3 separate regions of the Homo sapiens genome follow, and all the other regions are linked to region 3. Evidence: fine-mapped expression QTL. A gene starts in region 3. Each other region holds a variant in brackets. All regions are shown on one strand. Distances are from middle to middle.

Region 1 (8,180 bases), 23 kb before region 3:
GGCCCCATCTGCCCTGAGATGCTGAACAATCACAGGAACTTCACACCTTGGGCCACTGCAACCTGGAAGCTGAGTTAGCTCACTTTCCTCCTGACAAAATTATTCTAGACCAGGTCAGGCCTCAGACACATCACCTCCTCTGTGCCACCTTCTTCCCTCAGTAGAATTAATCATGGATCATGCTCCCTTGGTGTTTGGAGATATGGTACATTGTGTTAGTAGTTTACCTACCAAGCTCAATCTCCTCACCTCACTGCCAAGCCTTGATATGACAGGGAGCTCTTCAAAGACAGAGACCGTGTCTCACTCACTGCTCTGAGCTATGAGAAGATGGTTAATTATCTAGATTTAATTTTTATAGAACCTTTGGAAAATGTCTTGACATTTGAATATAAGCATACAGAATTTGCTTTCCTAGGAATGGTCTTGCTCCAAATCAAATAACGAAGTCACACAGCATAGGGCCAACACAGCATGGGGGGAAGTTGTTCTACATCACTCTAGCTCCCTGTGCTCCTATTTTATGCTAGGATGGACAGAACCATTGCCCAGACTGTTTTAACACTAGCCTCGGATTTCTGTTTACCTGCTTCATTCCTTCCCTGAGGCTGCTGAGTGCTCAAGGAAATAAGAAGAACAGGAGTGCTGGAGAGAAATGAGAACTGACATTTACTCGGTGTCTCTCACGTGGCAGGCATTGTGCTGGGTAATTAGTGTCTGCTCCATGCAGTGCATAAGAAGATGGTATATTGTCTACTGCTGGGTGCAACCTTCAATGTGTCAAGAACTGTGAAGGGTCTGATATTTGATCACACTTGCAATCTAGTAACTTAGCTTGCCACAGTTTCATATATACTGACAGAAGACATGAGACTCCTGGATCAGAGACAAAGGATTTATTACTCACCCCTAGCATAGCAAGCAGCATGAGCTTCATGCTTGTGTGGATTCTCCTCGCCCTGTAAGTCCCATGAGGCTAATACGAAGAGGCCCAGGTGGATGCAGTGTGTGCGTTTCACAGCTGAGAAACCTCAAGACTAGGAAGTTCCAGTTTTTTGTAATGAGCTGCAAACAAACCTCCTCAAACTTTGACCTAGAGGGAGGCAGTGTCTTTATTAGACTGGGCGGTGAACAAACTTGCTGTTCACTCCAGAGGGAGGCACTGTCTCTATAGTCCAAGGCTATTCATTGTACATACTTGAACAGATAATCCAGAACAAAAGCTGCACTCACAAGATGTGCAGAAGTATGAAAGACTAGTGAAGAATGATCTCCCAATACTATGTATGTATGTTAAATCACATCCATTAATTTTCTCAAATCTATTTTCTTTTGTGCTTGATGTATTAATATATGATGGAGGCATGCCAAATCTCTCACTATTATGGATTTCTCCCTGTAATTTTTTCATCTTTGCTTTTTGTATTTTGAAGCCATTTATTTTATTCACACTTTATTCTCATTACATTGGGCTTGGCAAAGTGTCATGCATCCGTGTATAGATCATGTTATTCTGTTGCTTTCAGAGGGAATTGGGATCCAGATTCTAATTGTCTCTCAGTTCAGAATCTGGATCAGAATCAGAAGAGGGTGGCCAATGCTGCTAGAGGCTGCAGGCTGCAGGCTGCAGGGAAGAAGTCAGGAAACAAGCATGGGGCTGACCGTGGGGGGCTCATGTTTCAGGGTTCTTATCTGGGCACCCAACGATCCCACATGCAGTTCGTGGGTGAGGGAGCCCACAGCAGCACCTCAAAGTGAACAGGGATGGCACAGGCCCCGGGCTGGTACTAGGCAGTTGGAAGAACAATTGCATCTGCAGAGGGAGGAACTGAAAAGACATCCTTCCATCTGTATCCCAGAATCCCGTGTAGGGCCTCTCCATCAGGACAGGGCTGGCACTGGCTCCTTGGCCTCAGGTTGGCCTCATGAGTAGTCCAGTAAAAGTCCTGCAAACTTGTCACGTGCCAGCTCCACTGTGTACCCGTCTGCTTGAGATGCTGGACAATCACTTTAGACTGTTCATGATTCTTCCTCGACTCTTCAAGAGATTTCTTCAAATTTAAGAGATTCTTTTAGGAAACTGTGGATCTCCTGGTCACTCCAAGTATTAATGAACTTGTTGGATAGTTTTTCTGGTTCCTCGGTTTCATTTTCCTCCTTTACTTCCTGGGGGTTTCTAGTGATTTCAACCTGAAGTCTTACTTCTTCCATTTTATTTCTGAGTTTTCTCCTGGGATTCTTTTCACTGCGGCCACAGGGCTTAATCTTGGGTTGCCAAAGAACTAGCACTCATTCTGTGCTAACGGAACCCAGGAGTGTTGGGAGGTGCCCTTGTGGAAATATGTTTGCTGCTGTCAGTCTCTGGAGGTCTCTCATTTTGAGGCTATTTAAACAGATGCTATACGGCTTTGCAGTTGTTACATCTTCCCAGTGAATTGAACCTTTTGCCATTATGTTATCCTCTTTATCCCTGGTAATGTTTTTGTCTTAAAAATCTATTTTAGACTGGGTGTGGAGGCTCGTGCTAGTAATCTTAGCACTTTGGAAGGCCAAGGCAGGAGGATTGCTTGAGCTCAGGAGTGCGAGACCAGCCTGAGTGACATGGCAAGACCCTGTCTCTACAAAAAATACAAAAATTAGCCAGGCATGATGGCGTGTGCCTGTAGTCCCAGTTACTTGCGGGGTTGAAGCAGGAGGATCGCTTGAGCCCAGGAGATGGAGGTTGGAGTGAGCCGAGATCACACCACTGCACTCCAGCCTGAGTGACAAAAGTGAGACCCTGTCTCAAAAAAATTTCTTTTTAAATAATAAATTAAAAATATTTTTTTCTGATGTCAACTTTCTTGTGGTTGCCATTTGCCTGATCTGTTTTCCCATTTTTTGATTTTCAAATTTTCCATGTTCTTATGATCTTGGTGTGTCCCATGGAAACAGCATATGGCTGAATTTTTTAACCAAACTGGTAGCCTTGATCCTTGAAAAGGAAAACTAAGAAAAATTAAATTTATTGTGGTTTTTGATATATTTGGACTTGTTTTTAGCCATCTTACATTGTGCTGTCTGCCCCACCACTTGGTTTTTCTTTCCTTTTTTTCTCTCGTGTCTTACCTGTGACTAGTTCTTTGTTATAGAGACTAGAAAGAAAATTTTGAAAGGGAAATGGGCCACAATGTTCATCAAGAAGAAGAAAACAAAGGTTACTCTACTAAACCCCAGCACTAACCAGGCCAAATGATTTTTTTTTCTCCACCAAAATAAGGGTTAATCTTGAAAAAATTTAACCTGCTTACTTACTGCTTTTTTTTTTTTTAGTAAAATAAGAAAAAGAACAGAGAAAAAAACAAAGCCTTTTTTGCAATCAGCCAGGCAACAACTGTTGAACACCGACTTTGTGTAAACCCCTGAGCCAGAGTCTAGGACAGGGTTCCCTCCTGGAGCTTCCATGCTAAGGGGAAAAGAGACAAGTGCACAATCAAGCTAATTCACACATGAGATCAGTACCACGAGTAAATTACAGAGGGTTATGGCAGCCAGAGAGAGACTGGGGCTGAGGTGGAGGAAGCGATTTCAGAGAGGAAGGTGTGGGATCGTTTCTCTGAGCTGACCTCTGCAGGAGGGAAGGGAGGTGACCTTGGGAAAGAGCAGGAGAAAAGGGTGAAGGTGGTGCAGGCAGAAGGAATCACAGGTGATAGGTTAAGAGACAGGAATAAACTAGGTCGGCTGAAGGCAGGATGGAGGCAGGGTGGCTGGATAGGAAGGAACCGGGCAGAGCTGGATGAAGTACGAGGCAGGATCCGGATCACCACGGAGCCCCAAGGCCATGGTAAGAGACAGTTATGACCTGACTTCATTTGTAAGTTTATCATTTTGTAGAAAGAACTTTAAATAGGGTAAACAATTCATCCCAGATTGCCTAGAACATTCTCAATTTTAGCATTGAAAGTCCTATGTCCTGAGAAATCTCTTAGTTCTAAGCAAACTGGGACCACTGGTCACCTTAAGTGAATAGTGAGTATAAATCCTGGTCCACATTTAGGTCTTCAGGAAACACCACTTTATTTCCAGTAGCTCAGCCTAATTTTGCCTTAAGCCCCTCCCTTCCTGAAACGTCATATTTGAGACCACTTTTCCTTTCAGGATCACAAGGGAATCCTTATTTGACACTCATGAAACATGGTGAGGGCCTCTAGTTGGCATGATTATAACAGGTGCTCTGACTGTCCAAGACTAGCATGCCCCCTTTAGTGACTCTCTGCAGGTAAAGTCCGCTTCCTTTGTTGTGGGACTCAGGAGGACGAGAGAGACCTCACGTTGAAACAGGAGAATCTTTATTGAGTGCACTCAGGCCCAGCTGACTCACATCCAAAAGACTGGGCCCAGAACAAAGACAGCACCTGACTTTTATACACACTTCACAAAAGGGGGTGGGCTAGCTTGAAGCAAGCTTACGGTGGTGTGAAAGCAGGGACACAGAGGCAGGACAAATACAGGATTGCACATGACCGTTGCCAAGCAACCCAGATGTCCGTTATCTAGGTTTGCCTGGGCACGGGCTTATCTTATAA[C/A]CTTCACTATGGTGCCCAGGCAGCTGTAGTTCAGGTCTACTCAGGCTTCTAATGACCTTCGTTGTACTTCTTAGATAAAACAGAATACTTGAAGTCACTAGTTACAGAGAACAGCAATCTATAAACTCATTCCATAAAACAAAGGAAATTTTGTCTTTCTTTTCCCTATGTTGAGGGAGGGCTGGGAGAGTCTCCAGAGCACATTAGATAATATTATCAAGACTTTTCCTGGGTCTGGGCTGTGCCTGTTGCTGCCTCTGGGACAAGTCAGCCCAATACAGGAAAACTTATTTCTCTTTCTTCTTAATTTTATTTTTCTTTAATTTCCTGCCTCACCTTAGCACCTCAGCCTGCCAAGCTCTCTGATCTGGGCACCTCCTAAGGCCTCTTCCTTGGAACCTTGACTGGGCTCCTCCCTGCTCTCGGGGATTAAGGAACTCCCTCTATTCTCAATCTAGAAAAAATCTCATCTCTGTCCTTGCTGCTGTGTCCAGACACACACACTCTCTCCCCACACCCCCCAGGACACCTCGCCAAAAGTCATCTCTGATTCAGGCTTCTGCAAAAGCTGAGATGTTGTTAGGCTGCCTTATAGCCTTTCTAGAATTCTAGAAACATGGGATTATCAAGTCTGTCTACCTGCTTGAAAAATGATGGGAGGGATGGGAGAGTGAACCAAAGAAGAAAAAGGTACAGACAGAACTTTTCAATGACTTTTTCTACACAAGGAAAAGCAGAGGGATAAGGTAGGGAGGTATTGCATATTCCAAGTGACAGAGGATGGTAGCTAGGATTAGAGAGGTGGCAGTGGAGATGGAGAGAGGGGACAGTTGTAAAGCATATTTTGGAAGTAGTGCATGCTGAGGGAGGTGGGAGATGTGGGGACAGAGGCACTCAAGGATCACGCCTTGGGTAATCCTTTCAGCTTGAGCATGTGGTGTAAATAATTTCAGTCTGAATTGGAAACTAGGGGCATATGCCCACATACCAGACCAGAATGTACAGCAGACACCATTTCTGCCTTAAGAGGGAAAGCTCTGGAAGGGGGTATGGCATTGAGGGGGACCATCTTGCGGACTGCTCCTCTTTTACGTGAGGGTGGCAGGTATACAAGCATACAAGCCACCATTGGCAGTTTATTTTTTTCAGAAACAAGGACTCACTTTGTTTCCCAGGCTGGAGTGCAGTGGCATGATCATAGTTCATTGCAGCCTCAAACTCCTGGGCTCAAGCAATCCTCCTGCCTCAGCCTCCCAAGTAGCTGAGACTACATGTATGAGCCACCATGCCTAGCCAATTAAAAAAAATTATTTTTTGTAGAGACAGCGTCTCGCTATGTTGCCCAGGCTGGTCTCAAACTCCTGGCCTCAAGCAATCCTTTCACCTTGGTCTCCCAAAGCATTGGAATTACAGGGATGAGGCACTGTGGCCAGTCCATCGGCAGTTTTATATCTTGGACGCTCTAAGGGGCCTTGGTGATATTTGTCTTTTGTAATGTGGTACTTAAAAATATGATGCAAGACAGTGATAGGATAAGCTGTGCTTTTCTCAAAAATACACAAAAATGTACTTAAACCTCTTTGAAAAGTTCAGAAAATAAACAAGATTTTAGTTACAGGTTATGTTGGGGAAGGGGAAGCCTGTTACATTTTTAGACAGCTAGAGCAGTGGGACGAACTCCTTTACTAACTTTTTCCCTTTGATATTGGTGAGAGTCAGCAGTTGATTGTTCACTGGGTCCTGAACTATGAAATGCTAGTTTTCTGGAAAGAAAGAAAAGGAAAAGAAGGAAAAAAAAATCCACTAAATAATTTCCCTTCCCTTTCTACTCCCTCCGACTCCCAAAACAAGAAACGCCAACAAAACAAACAGAAACCCAGTCCCTTACAACGTGCCCCGGGTTGAGTGAGTGAGTGGCATGTGGCCTTGGATTCTTTCTGCTCACTGCTTTGAAAACAACCTCCAAAGGAGTGGGTGGGGTGGTCCTGGTGAGACTGGGAAGCAGAGGAACAAGTCCGTCTAGAGTTTGGGGGAAAGTCAGGGGAAGTGGGAGAAGGGGAGGAGGCTGCTAGGAGCCTGGGAAAGAGGACAAAGGGCTGGAGGAATTTGAATTACACAGTGAATGTCAGCCTGCCCTTAACTACTACCAGATGCTGAGCCTGAGTTTGCAACATATGTTGGCTGAAATTGCAACACATGTTGGCCTTTTTTTTTTGGAAGCAAAGCCCTGTTATTGTGGAGTCAGAGTCTTAAAGAACTGGGAAAGCAAAGGTATTATTACCTGTCCTCATTTGCAGGGATTTCCTTTGCAAGCCTCCTGTGAGAAGGTTATCTTTCCACACAGATCTGCAAACCCAAAAGGTCAGGTCTGCATGTACCCTGCAGCCAGAAAGAAATTTCACTGGGTGAGGCTCACCGTCTGGGAACCTATGTCATCTTCCCCAGCCTGGGGCTAAAAAGTGAGCGGCCCAGACTTCACTGCAAAGAAAAAGCTCTGTGTGGTGGAGCCAGTGGTGCTGCTTGGCTGACTCAGCCCCCTTCTGGCTCTCACAGCCCCTCCGTGCCCCTTGGAGCTCCAGCCCTATCTTTCCTGGTCCCTGGCACAGGCCGTCCACACCACTACAAACGGGTGAACCGTACTCCTGGATCCTGTCCAGGCCACTCAGGAGCACATCTCTGGCCTCCATCCCTGTCCACCCCCACTTGCTATGGCTTTCGCTCTAAAACGGCCACTCCTGTGCCTGCAGCCCTGAAGCGGGAAGGCTGGGATACATCTCTAGCCGATGGAGCTGGGATGTAAAGCCAAGGTTTCTTCTGCATATGCCATAAAATTTTAAAAACACAAAAAGTAGAGAGTGAAAGAAAAAATAAGCTGCCATTCTTCCCTATTCCCTAGCCTCTCAGTTTCCCATACCATTTTCTTTTCTTTCTTTCTTTTTTTTTTTCCTGTGAGACAGAGTTTTGCTCTTTCGCCCAGGCTGGAGTACAGGGGTGTGATCTCAGCTCACTGCAACCTTCGCCTTCCGGTTTCAAGTGATTCTCCTGCCTCAGCCTCCCAAGTAGCTGGGGTTATAGGCACCTGCCACCACACCCGACTAATTTTTGGTTTTTGTTTGTTTGTTTGTTTTGTTTTGTTTTTTAGTAGAGATGGGGTTTCACCATGTTGGCCAGGCTGGCCTCGAACTCCTGACCTCGTGATCTGCCCACCTTAGCCTACCAAAGTGCTGGTATTACAGGCATGAGCCACTGCGCCCAGCTCCTATACCATTTTCTTACAACCATGATAATTCCATATATAGTCGTTTATATACACAAATGCATAGTGATGTTTTAGTCAATGATATACCACATATACACCAGTGATCCCATGAGATTATAATGGAGCTGAAAAATTCCTATCCTCATGACATCGTAGCTGTCATAACATTATAACATAATTGTTTTTTATAAATTTAGTATAGTGTACAGCAGGGGTCCTCAACCCCTGGGTCTCAGACCAGTACTGGTCCATGGCCTGTCAGGAACCGGGCCATGCAGCAGAAGGTGAGTGGCAGGCGAGCAAGCATGACTGTCTGAGCTCCGCCTCCTGTCATATCAGCAGGAGAATTAGGTTCT
Region 2 (8,180 bases), 300 kb after region 3:
GATTAAGGAATTATATGTGATTAAAAAAGTTTCCAAAATGAGAAGCCCCCAGATGACACTGTCTGAGAAACAGGAGCCAGTGGCCAGTTTCTATTCATTTTTCAAACTGAGATGAAGACAAGCATTTTACTGGCTTTTAATTTAATACCAGTGAGGCCTCCCACATCAATCAAGGCTTCCTCTGCATGTGACCTGGGAGGGCTTCTGATTTGAGAGGCAATTCTGAGAGGTGCTCAGGGATTTGGTCAGACACATGCAGATACAGCCTCAGTTCCTTACTTGAGTGCTAGTTCTAGCTTTACCACGGTCCCCTAATGTGACGTGTAAGCTCTGTATGTGAGATTGGGTGTGTGATTGTGTACTACCAGATGAACACACCTATGGATACGCCCTTTTAGGCTGAACTAAAATTGCCTTTCTTGGATGGTGAAAATAATACCTGATCATAAAAAAGGATAATCTCGAGGCTATTTCTTCCCAGCAGAAATTCTCCCGTAAGCCTTCTCGCATCTGTCTGCCCCACCAAGCCTGTGTGTGACCCCAGAGTCTGGTTGTTTTGCCTCATTCAGGTTTCTCTGGGTCCCCGGAATGATTCAGGATCCACGCTCTCCGTCAGCTCTGGAACGGGGCCAAGCGCATGCCTGCCTTTCTGCTGTCTTCATTAATACTGGGCTTGTGTCCCAGCATTCCTGAGAAATTGATAGAGACAGAACATCAATTGTAGTTTAGCTCTACAATGGGGAAACTCACGGTGACAGACTGGGGGATTTTTTTGCCAGGGAAGTCGATGGGCCCTTTCCTGGAGCAGCTCAGTGTTGAGGCTCTCTGGGCTTTTGTGAGGTCATCGAGTGGGACATAAGACAAGAGCAACAAGCCGCTAATCTGCTAATTGCAGCCTGGCTAAGTGATATTACCTTTGTGTTTGGCTTTCCTGGACTTGAAGAATGGCTATGTATGTGCAAGAGAACAAAACCAAGATGCCTTCTCCCAGACTGGGAGGAAGCTGTGGTGTCAGATTTAGAACTCAGCAGATCCAGACTGAGGCCAGCCTGGGCAGCTGTGGTCTGACCTGGAACTCCCATCTGGGGAAGGGCACAGAATGGGGGCAGAAGAAGGTAGCCTGAGCAGTGTGGGTACAGGGTGGGCCCACTCAATGTCTGTTAGATTCCTCTATTGGTTTCCCATGGTGTTTGAGAACATCATGTAGCTGTGGCCTCTTTGGGTCCCCATTGGTCAGGTGATTTTTGAGGGGGTGGCTGCAATGAGCAGGACACACCAGAGTGGGCAGTTCCTGGGTGGAGAAAACATTTGTCTTTGCACTATGGGCAGGGAGAGAGGTGGCAGATCTTTCCCAAACCCACCCACTTCTCTTGCATTCTTCATCTTAGTAAAACACCGTCTGCCACCTCGTTGGTCAAGTCAGAGATCTTGGAGTTGCCCAAGACTCTTTCCCCATTTCCACTCCAGCACCATGGAATGGCAATTCCTTCCTCTGTAATCTCTCTTCAAGCTGTGCCCATTTCTTCTTCCCCTCTGGAACCTCCCTTGTCCAGGCCTCTGTTCATGCTGGGCCACAGCGGTAGCCTCCTACCAGTCTCTACTTCTAGTCTTGCCTCTTAATAACTGACTTTCCATCCTTCACACAGAGTCATCTTTCTAAAGTGCAAATCTGGCCATGTCACTTTCCTGCTTAAACCTTTGGAAGGTTCCCCATTGCCTTCTGGAACAAGTTCAAACCTGATCTATGAGGTGTGGCCTGGCCCCACCCCCTCGCCAGTTGTATCTGTCATCATGCCCTCACTCAGGTTGCTGTGCCCCTCTCAGCCACTGTGAACCTCTTGTAATTCTGGGTGCTACCAGGCTCTCTCTTGCTTCTAGCCTTTGTGTGTGCTTTCCTCTGGATTCTCTTTCTCTTTTCTATTGGCTAACTCTACCCTTTTTTTCAGGTGCTAGGTTAGGAATTGCTTCTTCTGGGCTATCTTTTCTGACTCCCTCAGTCCAGGCCTGGATTTCTCTACGCTCCCATAGTGTTCAATAAATTCCCACAGCAAGTACTGATCATACCGATCATAGTACATAGAAAAGGCCTATTTGTGCAGTGGAAGATTTTTCTTTTCTTTATAGAGGGTTCAGAATTTCTCTTGAAGAAAGAATTGAATTTATTTAGGAAAACATCTTGATAAGTCACTTGGTTTAGAAGGTGAGACTCTGGGGGCCTGGTTTCCTAGGAGATGAGGAAACAAAAGAGATGACTAAGCTGTTACATATAAGGACCAGATGGGAATATAGGTGTTAGTGAGAACAGATCAGGGGAATTGGACATGGAGAGGATGGTTGAGCCCAATGGTAGGCTAGCCAAAGAATTTTCAAGACCAGAATAACTCACGTTTAATTAAAGTTGTAGGCATTTTTAAGGCATAAACATCTGTCAGCTACCCAGACCTCTAGTAAAATTTATCCTATACTCTAAGGACTTGTGTGGGTGTGTGGTATAAATTCAGAAAGTGAGGTGGGTTCATGTCTGGGTTTCTTCCATGCGGAAGTAAATAGCCATAACACATTGCAGAAAGGGGAAGAATCTAGAAGGGAAAGATGTCACAGGTGAATACACTAAATCAGGATGGGAGCTCTCCTTGGAACACACAGGAACTTTGCATGTAGGAGCAGAGGCTATTGCATGTTCTGCAAATTGTGGATCAAGGATGTAGACCAACTTTACTTAGATTTATAAGCGAGGGGACTCCACTTGAAACAGGGGTTCCAATTTCTTGTCTACTTCCTTACTGAGGTAGACCTAGGAAGGAGGCATGTTTCCATTATACTAATCCCACAGTAAGCTTAAAAATGGGCATGCAAGGAATGAAAGAAGAAAAATGATGAAAGGTAGGAAGTAGTAGGTCTAATTTGTGGCAGCTATTTAAGCTTTCAGAAATATCCTGGACAAAACTGAGGTCTCAGATCATAGGATTCATGGAGGAAGTGAGACAGAGGAGGCTTACAGATTCCCAGCTGATACCAACCCCTTCTACGTGCAGGAACTGCTGCTTGATCCCCTTCCAAGAACATCTTATCTGAAAAGGTGACTGGGCTTAACAGGGACCAGGACGCTGGCACAGGGAAGGAGCCTAGGCATCGGGCTGAAGGCCAGACAGAAGAATCAGGGCTCATCAGCACATCTGTGGAATGTTTATTTCTGTGTTTCCAGCTCAGGACTAGATGGCTGGAAACTACATATTGACTCATTATCTTCAGAGCCATGAATGAGATGTGGTCCCTGCTCTCAAAGTATTTACTGCCCCTCTGGAAAGCAGGACATGGGTGTAGGAAAGGAGAAGGTGCACAGGATAAGATGTCGTATGAGTTGGACTTCTGGAGCCTGGGTATGGGATGATCTCTCTGATCCCTGTGAACATCATCAGGTCTGCTTGGCTGTGGCACCTGCTGGAGCCAGAAGGTGAAGCCCAGGGCTTGCCATCACAAGCCTTTGAGCCATCTGCTTCCCCTGATGAGTTGTTATTAACAGTTTTGTTTTTGTGTGTGCTGTTCTTGTTTTATTTTTCATAATTATTCATGTTTTGTCCATATTTTATGCCATTATCAAAAAAATAGGATCCTCTCCCACATAATGGATTTAGTGATAACTTAGATATTAAAGGTACAGATAAATTGGTTTTTGCTGTGTGAAATTGATGGGCTTTTCTAAACCCCAAATCAAATAAATGCCTTGTGGTGGTCTTAATTAATCATCTTTTACCATACTACCAAGATTATTTTTTCCCTATAAAAAAAGGTGTCTGTCAGTGGAACAACCTGAACGAACTGGAATGTTCTTGCTTAATTTAATTGCCTGGAAGAAAACCTCATAGTTGATGGACTTTAATCAGATCCTCTTCTCTGTTCCCTGGAAATCTTTCTGAAGTACTGCTCCTAACCCTTGGTCCCTGGGGTTTCTCCCCCTCCTGAGGCCAGTGTGGGAGTAGTTCTTTGGAAAGCTGGCGGGGAATAGCAATAGTGAAGAGTGTGTGTGTTTTCCTCTCTGAGAAAGGTCACGGGAAAGCCTTTACTAAGAATAAGTTTTCTTTTGGAGGATATTCAGCACAATTTGGAGTGGGCCCTTCAGTGAGGGCTGCACCCTCTGGAGTTTCTGGGGGTGTCAGCAGCAAGAGCAGCAGCCTCAGACTTGGGGAAAGAAAATGCCACTCCCCCCATCAAGGGATGCCCACCTTCCCTTGGGCGCCGGTGTGTCTATCTCCTTCTGAGGAATAGACCTGGCACTGGGAAAGGCTTCCTATAGCCCCCTTTGCTCCCTGATCTGTCCTTCCAGCACTGTATTTCTCCTATTTCACAGGGTAGCCCCAGCCTTAGCATCACTCTAGCGGCTCTGAGTGTTTGTAGATCCTGCCATGGCTAGGGTATGTATGGTCCCTAGCCACCTCGCCTTTGCTCATGCTGTTCCCTTGGCCTGGAATGTCCTTTTCCCCGCTTCCTTCTGTGGCTGACTCCCCTCCGCCCTTGAATATTCAGCTCAGGT[G/A]TCAGCTTTTCTTGGAAATCTTCCTTGGGTCCCAGGTTAGATGTTTCCTCTGAGCTCCTAGCATGCCCTATGCAGACCTTAGTCCTAGCTCCAGGTGCATGCTATTGAATGAAGTTTTTGCTGGCTTGTCTTCTTTACTAGACCCCGTGACCCTTGAGTGTAGGGATATTGTCTGCTTCATTGTGGAATTCCCACCATTCAGCACAATACCCAGTGGGGTGGGTACCCAGGAAATATTGTTGGATATGAGAGGGAAGGAGGGGAGAGAGGGGTAGAAAGGAGAGAGGGGGGTAAAAGAGACTGATTTTAGGATCAGCTTTCAGGAATGGTACATGATCTCAATGTTGTGCTCTAATTCATGGCTTGCTGACCCTCTCCATGTCACTTGAGTACTGACCCAGGGCTCAGCTGCCACAGGTGCCTCAGACCAAGGGTTAGAGGATCTGAGTCTTGGAGCACTTGTATCCATCTGCAACTGGTTGAAAGCTCTGCTCTAAATGTCTTTCTCCCTGTGAACAGGCTCTGCTCTGGCTTGTTAGTAGACTCACTTTCCCTCAATGTGCCCTGTATTTTTTAATCTCCCTCCTCTTTACTTCTGCCATCCTCCGTGCCTGGGATACCTGTCTTTGCCCTTGTCTTCTGTGTGAGCTCTTTATCTATTTTCTAAGATCTTGTTCCAGCCCTGTTTCTGGGACTCCTCTACTACCACAGCCTGCTGGCCCACAGACCTCCTTCTCCTCTGCATCCCGGTGGTCCTGACTCAGACCTTCTACATTGTCACTTAGCATTCACAACTCGCCATTGATCAATGTCCCCCTTGGGATCCTGTCTCACCAGGAGAACAGTAAGTAAACGGCTGACCAACTGTGTCTCTCTGACTCCTCCGCCTGGTCCCTAGCCAGTGCTTGGTGGGTGTCTGGAATCCTTCCTTCCTTGGACTGGTAGCCCTGGGAGGCTGCTCTAGGAAAGGTGGGCCCAGAGCTGCACAGAGGACAGGGATGGGGGTACCCAGAAGTGGAGTAGGTGGGTGTTGGCATGGTGTGGTTTCAGGGACCTTCCATCCAATAACATCTCCACCTAGAATGCCACCATTAGAGACTGCAGTCTCTCACAGACAGCATTTTTGACAAGGCAGAAGCAGCCCAGAAGAGAAGTTTACACTTCTGCTTTGGGCCTATCTGTGGCCAGGAGAGTGTCAGAGGGCAAAGGACAGGAGAGAAGCTGCATGGCGAGGAGAAGGTGAGAAGGCCCACTATCCTGACTTCTCCACGTCTGTGTGGGCTGGCCCAGCTGCAGGAGGCTGGTACAGAAAATTCAGACAGACCCAGGCCTCCCTCTGCTTCTGCCAATGAAACTGGGACCACCCTTTCCAATTGGGAGAGGCCACTGCAAATGAATTGCTTCTTTGAAATGTCCCCTGGAGTCATCCTTATGGAATCAAGATGCAGAAAATAGTTTAATGAGGACACCAACCTGCAGGTGTACCTGTGCTAATTCTGTAGACAAAGGCACTAACCTGACAGCTCAGGGAGGAAGGAGCCATTAAACCTCTTTTGGGAAACATCCGTCCTGCAGGGCCGACAGAAGCACCTTGCTAAAGCAGGAAGCAGGAGGCAGGAGGCAGGACTCTGCCCCATGAGCCTGGCCTGCTGGCCTGCCCCCCTGACAGGCTTGCCAATGTCCATGGGGCCCAAGGGCTGCTCCTCAGCAAACCACGGCACAGGGAACCCTGTGGGTTGTGAGGGGACCCTGTAGCATGGAAGGTGGGGAAACGAAAACAGGATAGAAATTCCCGCAGGAAGACTGAGACAGTGGACGGAGAGTTCAACATAACAGTGTTTGGAGATTGTTAACTGTGACTCATAGTAAGGTATATATTTAAAATCATGCTCTATTGCATCCTGTGTGTAATGAATATACACACATTCATATAACTGAAACAAAAGTTTCACGAAACAATACCTACCTTTACTATGAGCGATGCACTCTGAACATTATATTCCATTCTTCCATTTAAAAGAAGAATGTTGTGTAAAGCTTGTTGTGTCCCATTACACTGATTTCACAAACCCACTGACGTGCTTCCCACAGTTCCAAAAATGCAGATCAGGTAGAGGCAGGAGTTGGACTGGAGAGCAGGCAAGGCTGAGAGGCCCAGGGGAGATGGCATAACCTTGACCTCTATATTTTTTCAGCGGGAAAACAACTGCATGCCCCTGGCAAGGTTTGTTGTAAAAGTTCGATGAAGTAATCTGTGTAAAGTACTTAGTACGGGGCTTGACATTGCCAGCATTTCATATCCATTAGAGATGCTGCCGCCGCCAATGACGATAATGATACTGATTTTGATTTCCGTCTTCTTGGATTGTGAATGTACCCTGCTGTCCGCTGTGACGCTACCTCCTTTCCTAAAGCCGCCACCACTGGCATAAGGTTGCCAGCCACATTTGTAGCTGTTTGCAAGCTCCTCAGAGAAGTGAGATGCATGTTGAGAAGATGCTGGAGAAGAATCAGAGCTTTGTTTAGGGCCTACAGTTAAGGCTGGGACCTCGATTTGTAACATCTGCAATGTGTTTGCAGCATGAAAGATTCTCTTGCACTTCCTAGGCTTGGTAAATGATGGAGACAAAGGACAGCAATGTAGAGAAGCAGAAAAGATGTCAGCCAAAAATGGCAGAGGAAAAGGTCATAGACTGGGCAGAGGCTGCCTGGAAAACAGTGGTAGACCGGGAGTCAGGGCAGGCAGTGGCCACCAAGTTGTTCCACGTTTTGGGCAAGTCTTTCTTCATGCTCATTCTTGATGGTGAGAAGCTCTGTGTCTCCCTCTCTCTCACCTGGACCTCTCTTCCCTGGCTCTGACATGGGAGAGGGCAAGAAGACAGGAGGGAGAAGTGTGCTATGGGAGTACCTAGCCCTGAGCTGCTGGGGACCGAGGTGGACAGGCCCGGCACCTGGAAAGAGACCTCTCAGGCCTGCCTGGGAGAGGCAGGTCACCTGGCTCAGGGCTGAGCAGCCACACCCATTTTGGTCGCAGCCTACAGGAAGTCCTCTTTGGAGCCCTCTGGCTTGCGCCCTCTGTCGTGTGGATTTGGCACATTGCAAAAACAGTGGGCTCCTTGCCCCTTCCACATGGCTCATATGTTTTCGATTCCCTCTCTTCTCTAAAGTGAGCTGGAGATGTTGGTGTCACAGCAGGGCAATGCCGTGAAGCCTGGAAGAAGGGGGGCAGGGCAGTGAGAAGCCTGGGCCTCTGGGTGGGCTGGCCTTTGGAGAGCAGGTTGTTAAGGTGGTCAGCTCCAGGCAGTCGTAGATCTTTGCAGGCCTGACCTGGCCTGTTAAACCCCTGGGGGTGATACCAGAGAGCCCGGAGCTCATTGCTGATACAAATGTAGGCTGCGATTCTGAAGGCAAAGGTGGGCCATGGTTGGCCTTCCTAGAACCCTCTGGCTCCCAGTGGTTGGATGCCCCTGCTTTCCTCTGCAATGCCCCATCCCTCAGGGCGTTGGCCAGTGGCAGTGACTGCTGGCCTCGGGAGCCCAGGCTGAGGCCAGGCCAGTGCCCATGCAGCTTTGTGCTGCTTCTTCATCTGTGGCCAGACAGCCTGGTGGGTGCTTGTTGGTGCCACGAATAACATTTTGCTAGAGTGGAA
Region 3 (8,180 bases):
ATGTTGGCTCACCTCTGCCTTCTGGGTTCAAGTGATTCTTGTGCCTCAAGCCTCCCGAGCAGCTGGGACTAAAGACATGAGCCACCATGCCCAGCTAATTTTTGTATTTTTTGTATAGATGGGGTTTTGCCATGCTGCCTAGGCTTGTCTTGAACTCCTGAACTCAAGCGATCCGCCCACCTTGGCCTCCCAAAATGCTGGGATTACAGGTGTGAGCCACATACCTGGCCAGGAAGCTAAATTATTTCTATCAAGATGAACTGTGAATCAATTAAACCTCTTTTCTTTATAAATTACCCAGTCTCAGGTAGTTCTTTATAGCAGTGTGAAAATGGACGAATACATGGGGAAATCATCTTGTAAATAAGTGACAGCTGGGAAAAGATAAAAGGAGAAAAGAGCCTGACACACAGCCCTCAACAACACCAATATTTAGGGGGATGGACAGTAGAGGAGGGAACTACGAAGAACAATAAGAAGGAGCTGCCTGAGAAGTACACAGAAAAAAATAGTGGATGGTTAATCAGAAGCCAAGAAAGAATTTCTAGCTCTAAGGAAGAGTCAACAAGTAAATGCTTTAGGAGATGGGATGAAGACTGAAAATGCTCATTGACTTTTTCCCCTGTAGACTATATACACTCCAGGAAAGGTGCAATATCTGCCTTGTTCGTTCTTTCTTTTAATACCTTTTTTATTTTAGATTTTTGTGGCTACACAGTAGGTATATATTGTGTTGTTCATTCTCGTATCATCACATGGAATAGAATAGATCCTCAATAAAAATAAGTTAAAGTAATGTGAATAGACTAACACATTTAAAAGAGAAAAATAGATTAAACTATGTTAGCTAAAGAGCTTCAACCTCACTCTAATTTCTTTCGTTGTGAGTTTTCCTAAGCTATTTTCTCCTAAAAATGTTAACTTTCCTTTCCCCATCCCCAAAAGATGGGTTGTTTTGCCAATAGTACCTTACAATTTTCTCAAAAAAGGTGTATATATTAGATAAAAATTATCTAGACAAAACTCCATAACCGTATTTCACCCCTCTAATCCCGTTATGTATGCTATTGTTGTGCCAAACTCCTACTAACCTCAATAGAGAAGGTACCAGGTTCAAGAGGCCAAGAAGAGACTGGAGAGCCAGTAAATGAGACATGGGTTTGTATTAGGAGCTTACAGTCCAGTGGTGACAGAGGGGAAAGAGTCCAGTGGCAGCGGGCTGGACAGAAGAACCAGCTATGTATAGAAGTGGTCCAGTGGCAGTGGGGTGGACAACACATCTCCCTTCCTGCTGTCCTCTGGCAGCGGGCTGGACAACATAATTGCACGTCCCAAGGGCAGGAAAACCGCAACTGCCTGTAAACATCATGCAGTTTATACAGCATTTTCACTGAACACCCTCCCACTAACGACCTCCACTTGGCAACCTGCATTTAACCCAAAACTCAGGGCCCTAATCCCCTGTATGGCCCATGTTCCAATGGATGGGCCGGTGGGTGGGGGTGGGGGTTTAAGATGTTTATCATAGACACAGAACAAATCTCCAGGTTGGCCACTCCCAGATTCCCTAGCTCAGAGCACACATTCAGGTGCATCTACCATACAGGGTCATTCTCAGGGTATGCTTACATTATTGCTATCAGATGCGTTTATGTTGCAGGTCTCTAATGATTTACACCTCCCTGGTTCCTTGCCTGGGGTAGTCCCAGTACAGGGAGAACAGCCCTTACGAGCTGATCTGATGCCATGTTAGGTACACCTGATTTTGAATTCATTTTGGCTTTTAGAGAAATCGGATAATTTCCCGATTTTTTTTTTTTCTTTTTTTTTTGAGACAGAGTTTTGCTCTTGTTGCCCAGGCTGGAGTGCAATGGCGAGATCTCGGCTCACCGCAACCTCCACCTCCCAGGTTCAAGTGATTCTCCTGCCTCAGCCTCCCAAGTAGCTGGGATTACAGGCATGTGCCACCACGCCCAGCTAATTTTTTGTATTTTTAGTAGAGACGGAGTTTCTCCGTGTTGGTCAGTCTGGTCTTGAACTCCTGACCTCAGGTGATCCGCCTGCTTCAGCCTCCCAAAGTGCTAGGATTACAGGCGTGAGCCACCGCGCCCGGCTCCCCTGATCTTATCTTTGTATTCTTTTTTATTGTATTGTATTTATTTCTGTCTGCCACATTTCATATCAAGACAGAATAACAGTGCTGCACATTAGGATCACCTAATTTTAAAATTGACATTTTAAAAATGTCAATGCCCAGGTCTCACCCATGACAGTTAAATCAGAAGGTCTGGAATAGTAAGCAGGCATCAGTGGTTAGTAAAGATCCTCAGGTGATGCCAATGTGCAGCAAAGTTTGGAAACTATTGGCACAACAGGTTTTAATCTCAGTTGTGACACTGGCCTTGCAATCTTGGATATGTAATTTAACTTCTCTGTAGAGTTAAATAACGTAAGAGTACCTATCTCAGTTAGTTGTAGGAATGAAATGATTGAAAATAAAGTGATTGGATCTGTGCCTAGAACAAAATAAGGGATACGAAATTGTGGGGCGGGGTTAAGATAATCTACTCCCTACATAAGTAGAGAAATGTCATAATTCATTCTGAGTTAGCCAGCCACACCCCATCCTTTAGCGTGGGCGGGCTTAACTACTGCTTCCCAGATGGTTTGAAAATAAGCTCCATGGACAACTCCTTCAGTGGTGAATAGTCTCTGCTCTCCTAAAATTTGTATTTTATTGGGGAGATAATCAACAAATACATACATAATTTCAGGCAGTGTTCAAAGAAGCCATGCCAAAGAAATAACCTTTACTCTGAATTCAGTGTGGTCTCTGGCTAAGAATATGCCCTGGCAGAAGGGAAGCCCTTTCTATTCTCTGAAAAGAAGTGTGTTTACCAAAGCATTAAATGATAAATACATTTTTTAACGGTGAAGTCACAGGTCTCACAGAAATACAAAATGAACACGTGTAAAAAATTTATTTACTCATTAACCCGGGGACCAGTAAGCTGTTAGAACCAGCTCTAAGCAGAATTTAAAGCACCCATCTATATTGTTGAATCAGGACTGGGGAATGAATTTACAAATCGATGCAAAATGGCTTTTCCCAAGGAAGGGTAAGATAACAATACGAGGGGTCTTACCGAGTTGTGCAGAGCACCACAAAGAAAAGCGGACAGCCCCTCTAGCAACAGAATGCCCGGGACGGTGTGCCAAACTATGGCTGTTTTTTCATTGAAGACATTCAGTAATTTTTTGTCCATTTCAATGTGTTTCATAATTTCTCCCTACAAAAAAAAATCACTCATCTCCAAAAACCCAGCAGCTAAGTAGTTCTTCTACATTATCTTGCTTTCATTTATCCTTAATCCTTTTGCCTTTGGCAGGGTTGGATGGTCTTTCTTCGCCCCCACCAAGGAGGCTTCGGAGGGAAAAGAGGGTGTAAATCCAATCCCTCCACTCCTCCAGGCACCCTCCCATTTCCGCCACAGGGGCGAGGATGGCTCAAGGCTGGGCTTGGCTCTGTCCCTTCCCCGCAGGCCCCGCCCCCAGCCCGCGCAATAATTGAGCTGCGCGCAAAGGTCACGTTATCAGCCTGTGACGCTTCCCATCCAGTACGTGGCACACATTGCTCAGAAAAGCCCCTTGTGCCCGCTTTCTGCCATCCGCGCTGTCTCGTGTCTCCCTTTTTCCATTAAATGCCTCTTTTCTTGCGGGTCTCATCTCGGGAATAGTGCACTACGGGGACATACCTATCCCCAACTATCCTAGGCCCGAGAACCAGCCCTTGCCTTCGCGTAACAGGCGGAGACTCGCTGAGGCGAGTTGCACTTCTAATTGGGCGTGAGGTCTTGTCAATCCCCAAGTTCTTCCAATCAGAAGTCCGGTCCATCCAGCCTTCCGCTCCCCATTGGCCTGTGTGGAGGAAGAGGGGTGGGTAAGCCGAAGTCGCTGCGCTCAGTGCGCAGGCGCGAAGAAGCTGGCAGGGGCACGAGCCGGGGGCGGGTTTGAAGACGCGTCGTTGGGTTTTGGAGGCCGTGAAACAGCCGTTTGAGTTTGGCTGCGGGTGGAGAACGTTTGTCAGGGGCCCGGCCAAGAAGGAGGCCCGCCTGTTACGATGGTGTCCATGAGTTTCAAGCGGAACCGCAGTGACCGGTTCTACAGCACCCGGTGCTGCGGCTGTTGCCATGTCCGCACCGGGACGATCATCCTGGGGACCTGGTACATGGTAAGGCGGGCAGGCGTGGCGCGTATGTCCGGGGGGCCTGGGGAGCGGGGCCTGGTGCGGAGGGGGTGAGACTGGAAACGGGGTGTTGGGTGGGGCGGGGACTTGGAGGGGCGCTGCTTTTTAAGGCGCGCCAACTCTGGATGAAGTCCAAGGACTTTGGGAAAGTAACCTTGTTCAGGAATCGGAGTCGGGGGAGCGGGGGGCGGTGGTAAGCATGGGGAGATTGTTCTTTGGCAAGAATTTGAGGAGAGAAGCGGGCTTGGGAGAGCAGAGGCTTTGCAGGCGAAGGGACGAGGGTGGTAGGATTTGGTGGGAATTCCTCTGTTTTGGTTCTTGTTGTATTTCTACGATCTGAAAGGCAGCATCTCCCTTCCTCCTATCCAGTGCTCCCTGGAATTTTTTCCTCTAATGAAATAATTAGGAGCGGACCTTGGTAAACGCAGTCTAGTTTCGACATTGGTCTTCCCGTTGGGAAAGCGAAAGATCCAGCGGTAACCCGGTTGTCCGCGTTTCTTGGACTTTGTTTTGTTTCATGCCTCTCTTGCATCTCCAGAATCGCTTGGGGGCGATAGCTTTTGCCTGAGTTGACGCCTGACCAGCTTTTGTCCTGGTGCAGCCTCCTCCCTGCGCAGTAGGTGCTTTTCGTAGCCGACCGGCTGTTTTTACAGAGACCTTTATTGAGAGCCCTCTCCATCCTGGCCACCTACCCCGGTATCTCCTGGGTTCCAAGATCTGTGTGATTCTGTCCTAACCAAGTTGACACTGTTGTTGCCTGGTGATTCACTAGTAATAAGTTTGTGATTTTTTCTTTTGTAATTCACCATTTATAGTATCCATGCACATTAAACCTAACTTGTCTATGACTTCCAAATATGGGATTCAGTTTAGGTAGTTTTAGGTTATTATGATTTTGCCGAAGCCGTGACAAACTTCCTACATGGTCGACTTGGCCACTTTAATGACTTCGCGAATGTGGTTGTGTGGGTGACGTTGGTGATACTGTGCAGTTTTTGATACTTAACTGCAAAAGAGGAAGAGAGTTATCCCAGACACAATCTGTTTTCTCTGTACTTGCTGCTTCTCCCCACTCATTGACTTGAAATCATTAGTAAGCATTTGGACAAACGCCAGATGAGAATCATCTTAAATGAGGCAGATACTGTTTCATGGCCCACCCCCGGGGGACTACCTGACTCCACATGACTGCTACCTGCCCTGTTGTTTTTTACCGTCTTGTTTCTGATGTACATTTAAAAAACAACACGAATGTGTAGGTTTGCTTGTGCTGAGTTTATTTTCATGTTTCCTGTACTTTTATATTCGGAAATACCGCCTTATTGACAGAACTATATCACATTTTCCCTCAGAGACTCTTTCGTTCTGTATTTTAACTGATTTGGAATACTAAACATAGAGTTAATGACCATCAGCTGCATTATGTTTCTAACTTCCTTTTATAGCTTCTCCATTTTGCTGAGGGGCTGGGTCTCATTTCTTTTGTTTGTCCTTAGCTCTGTCTTCTATTTCCCTAAATGAATAATTCAAACCTTGAGGATCCTCAAGGCTATTACTCAATTCCGTCTTCCTCACCCCCAGAAGATGACTTTCTTTCCTATTTAACTAAGAGAATCCATCGACCTGGCTCTCTCCTGCAGTCTTAGTCTTCCTGTTTCTTCTCAGATCCTTCCCTCCACTCACAGAACAAAGGATTCCTAACTCCTCAAGAAGAGAATACCACCATTTCTATTTCAACCATCCGAATGTAATTGGCTGTATTTCTTTTCAGTTTTTCTCAGGCAGATTTTTTGATGCTGTGGGCTCAGCTAGAAAATGAATAGAATAGCAGGATAAAGTGGGAACTACAAACAGGAAACTCAAAATGCAGAGAGAAAAACTTCATTACGGGCGCTTATTCTTACAAAATAGGGAGTGAGGAGTTTACATCTGTTCCCTACTTTAAGCCCTTGTTGTGAGAAGGGTTCACATACCTCTGAAGACCATGCTTTAGTTTCACAATTTTAAAAAGATGCCATAGCTGTTCTTACTTTGCATAGACTTCTCAGATTAGTGTAAAACATTTTATTGTAAACTTCTTAAATCGTTTGACCTGTCTTAAATTGATTAAGAGATTTACTGACCACCTGCAGTGTAAAAGGCTTTGGTGGACAAACAAAAGGAATAAATCACAGGGGCCATGTGTCATTTGCCTTGTTTTCCTATTACCTGCTAAGTGCTAGACTCTCAAATGTTTCTTGTCTAACACAGCATCTGCCCTTAAGATATTTATGGTATCACAAACTTGGAGCACAGATATGAAAAACATATGGTACAGTGATGAGGAGGAGGAGAAGGTGATCAGTAATATCAGATTCTAATCAGAATAAGTACTGGAAAAAGGCCATTGGTTTTGTTTATTATAGTTTTGTTGATGACTTTCAAAAGAGTAGCTTGAATACCATAGCAGTGTAAAGACAGTCTCTACCAACTTGGGGAGACATGTAACACTTATGATGCAAGACCACCTAAGCCAAACTGTAGTATAATACTTCGAAGCAAAGAAGGCTTGTCCAAGTAGTGCATTTTATTCTCAGAAGCTGCTTTACTAAGACAGAGAAACAATATGGGGATGAGTGAGTATTAAATGTCACTTCCCTCCCTACCTACCTTGTCAAGGTACTCTCTTGCTTGATTCCTGGTGAGGCAATAATTCAGTCTGCATGGGAGAATATTTATGTTTCTTTTTACATTACGTGGGACAGACTTCTGAGATGATGATTCCCCCTGTGTCATTTGGAACTTGGGGGAGCCCCTCTCCCTCGCTATCAGTGACTGTATCTGATACAGTCTCATTGCTTTCTAGCCACGGCTTCTACTGGTCTAGTGTTAAAGTATCGTAACACCATATACTAAAATATTCATTGTATGGTACAAAATAGTGCTGTGGGACATAGAGAAAGCCAGAACCAGTTATTATATGCACCGGAGGTACCAGCCCTGAAGTGTGAGCCTTTCGTATTTTAGCTAGAAAAGAAGCATACCTGGTTAAGTAACAGGAAATTTCAGAATGAGCTCATGTTTAAATTCTGGCATTCCTGAAATGGTTTTCTCTATCATTTATTGAAGAATTTGAAGCCAGTTGATTTTAAACAAGTTTCTTATGAGGTATAAACTCAAATGTTTATTGAATAATTGAAAATGGACTTAAAAGTGTGCTGTAGTAGATATACTTTGTGATTAATGGTGTGCACTACAAGACTACATTTTGAGCATTTGTAATAATTTTATCTCTTAGACTTAATATATGGCTAATTTTTCATGAGTGTCTCAACCATAAACAGTTTGAAGTTCTGTATCTGGGAGAGAAGTAAAAACAGGTTTCCTTAAGCTCTATTCCTTTCTAGCCCTCACCTCTGACTTCAAGTAAGCATAGCTTGTTTATATTTGTTAGTTTCCTTCCTTAAACTAAGGAAGTTTTGTGCCTCTGCCTTTGCATATGCTATTCCTTCTCCCTGAAATGTTGCTGTCCTCCCAAGTCACTTTCTAAAAATTTTATTAAGGAAATTTTCATACATACAAAAGTAGTGAAGTAGTACGAAAACCTCCCATTTATTCATCACCCAGCTTCAACCATTAACAACATTTTGCCAAGTCCAGATAATTTAATGGTTAGCTCACATGTTTTCGTGGTAAAACTTTCCTTTTTTTTTTTTTTTGAGACGGAGTCTCGCTCTGTCGCCCAGGCCGGACTGCGGACCGCAGTGGCGCAATCTCGGCTCACTGCAAGCTCCGCTTCCCGGGTTCACGCCATTCTCCTGCCTCAGCCTCCCGAGTAGCTGGGACTACAGGCGCCCGCCACCGCGCCCGGCTAATTTTTTGTATTTTTAGTAGAGACGGGGTTTCACCTTGTTAGCCAGGATGGTCTCGATCTCCTGACCTCATGATCCACCCG

Which allele goes with the higher level. Positions count from the first base shown, and alleles are read on the strand shown. Sizes are in standard deviations (SD) of each study's normalised expression. Not every link is listed here.
In carriers of allele C in region 1, the expression in pancreas of the gene that starts at base 4,013 in region 3 tends to be higher than with A alone (moderate effect, 0.63 SD a copy in GTEx).

The links.
Region 1: its variant is fine-mapped to the expression of LAPTM4A in pancreas (GTEx, PIP above 0.99). The same link has a PIP of 0.9 or more in adrenal gland.
Region 2: its variant is fine-mapped to the expression of LAPTM4A in whole blood (INTERVAL, PIP 0.98).

Annotation. Positions count from the first base shown.
Region 1 is chr2:20,070,552-20,078,731 of GRCh38, reverse strand. All of the region lies in intron 2 of LAPTM4A-DT (LAPTM4A divergent transcript), which reads right to left. Among named protein-coding and RNA genes, the nearest start is that of LAPTM4A-DT, 23 kb to the right of the region's middle. The variant C/A (reference allele first, on the strand shown) is at 4,566.
Region 2 is chr2:19,747,599-19,755,778 of GRCh38, reverse strand. No RefSeq gene overlaps it. Among named protein-coding and RNA genes, the nearest start is that of LINC00954, 120 kb to the left of the region's middle. The variant G/A (reference allele first, on the strand shown) is at 4,532.
Region 3 is chr2:20,047,461-20,055,640 of GRCh38, reverse strand. It overlaps LAPTM4A (lysosomal protein transmembrane 4 alpha), which reads left to right and starts at 4,013. Exons shown (of 7, transcript NM_014713.5): 1 at 4,013-4,231. The coding sequence starts at 4,121. It overlaps LAPTM4A-DT (LAPTM4A divergent transcript), which reads right to left and starts at 3,504. Exons shown (of 5, transcript NR_187142.1): 1 at 3,147-3,504. RefSeq lists enhancers at 4,003-4,202, 4,738-4,877.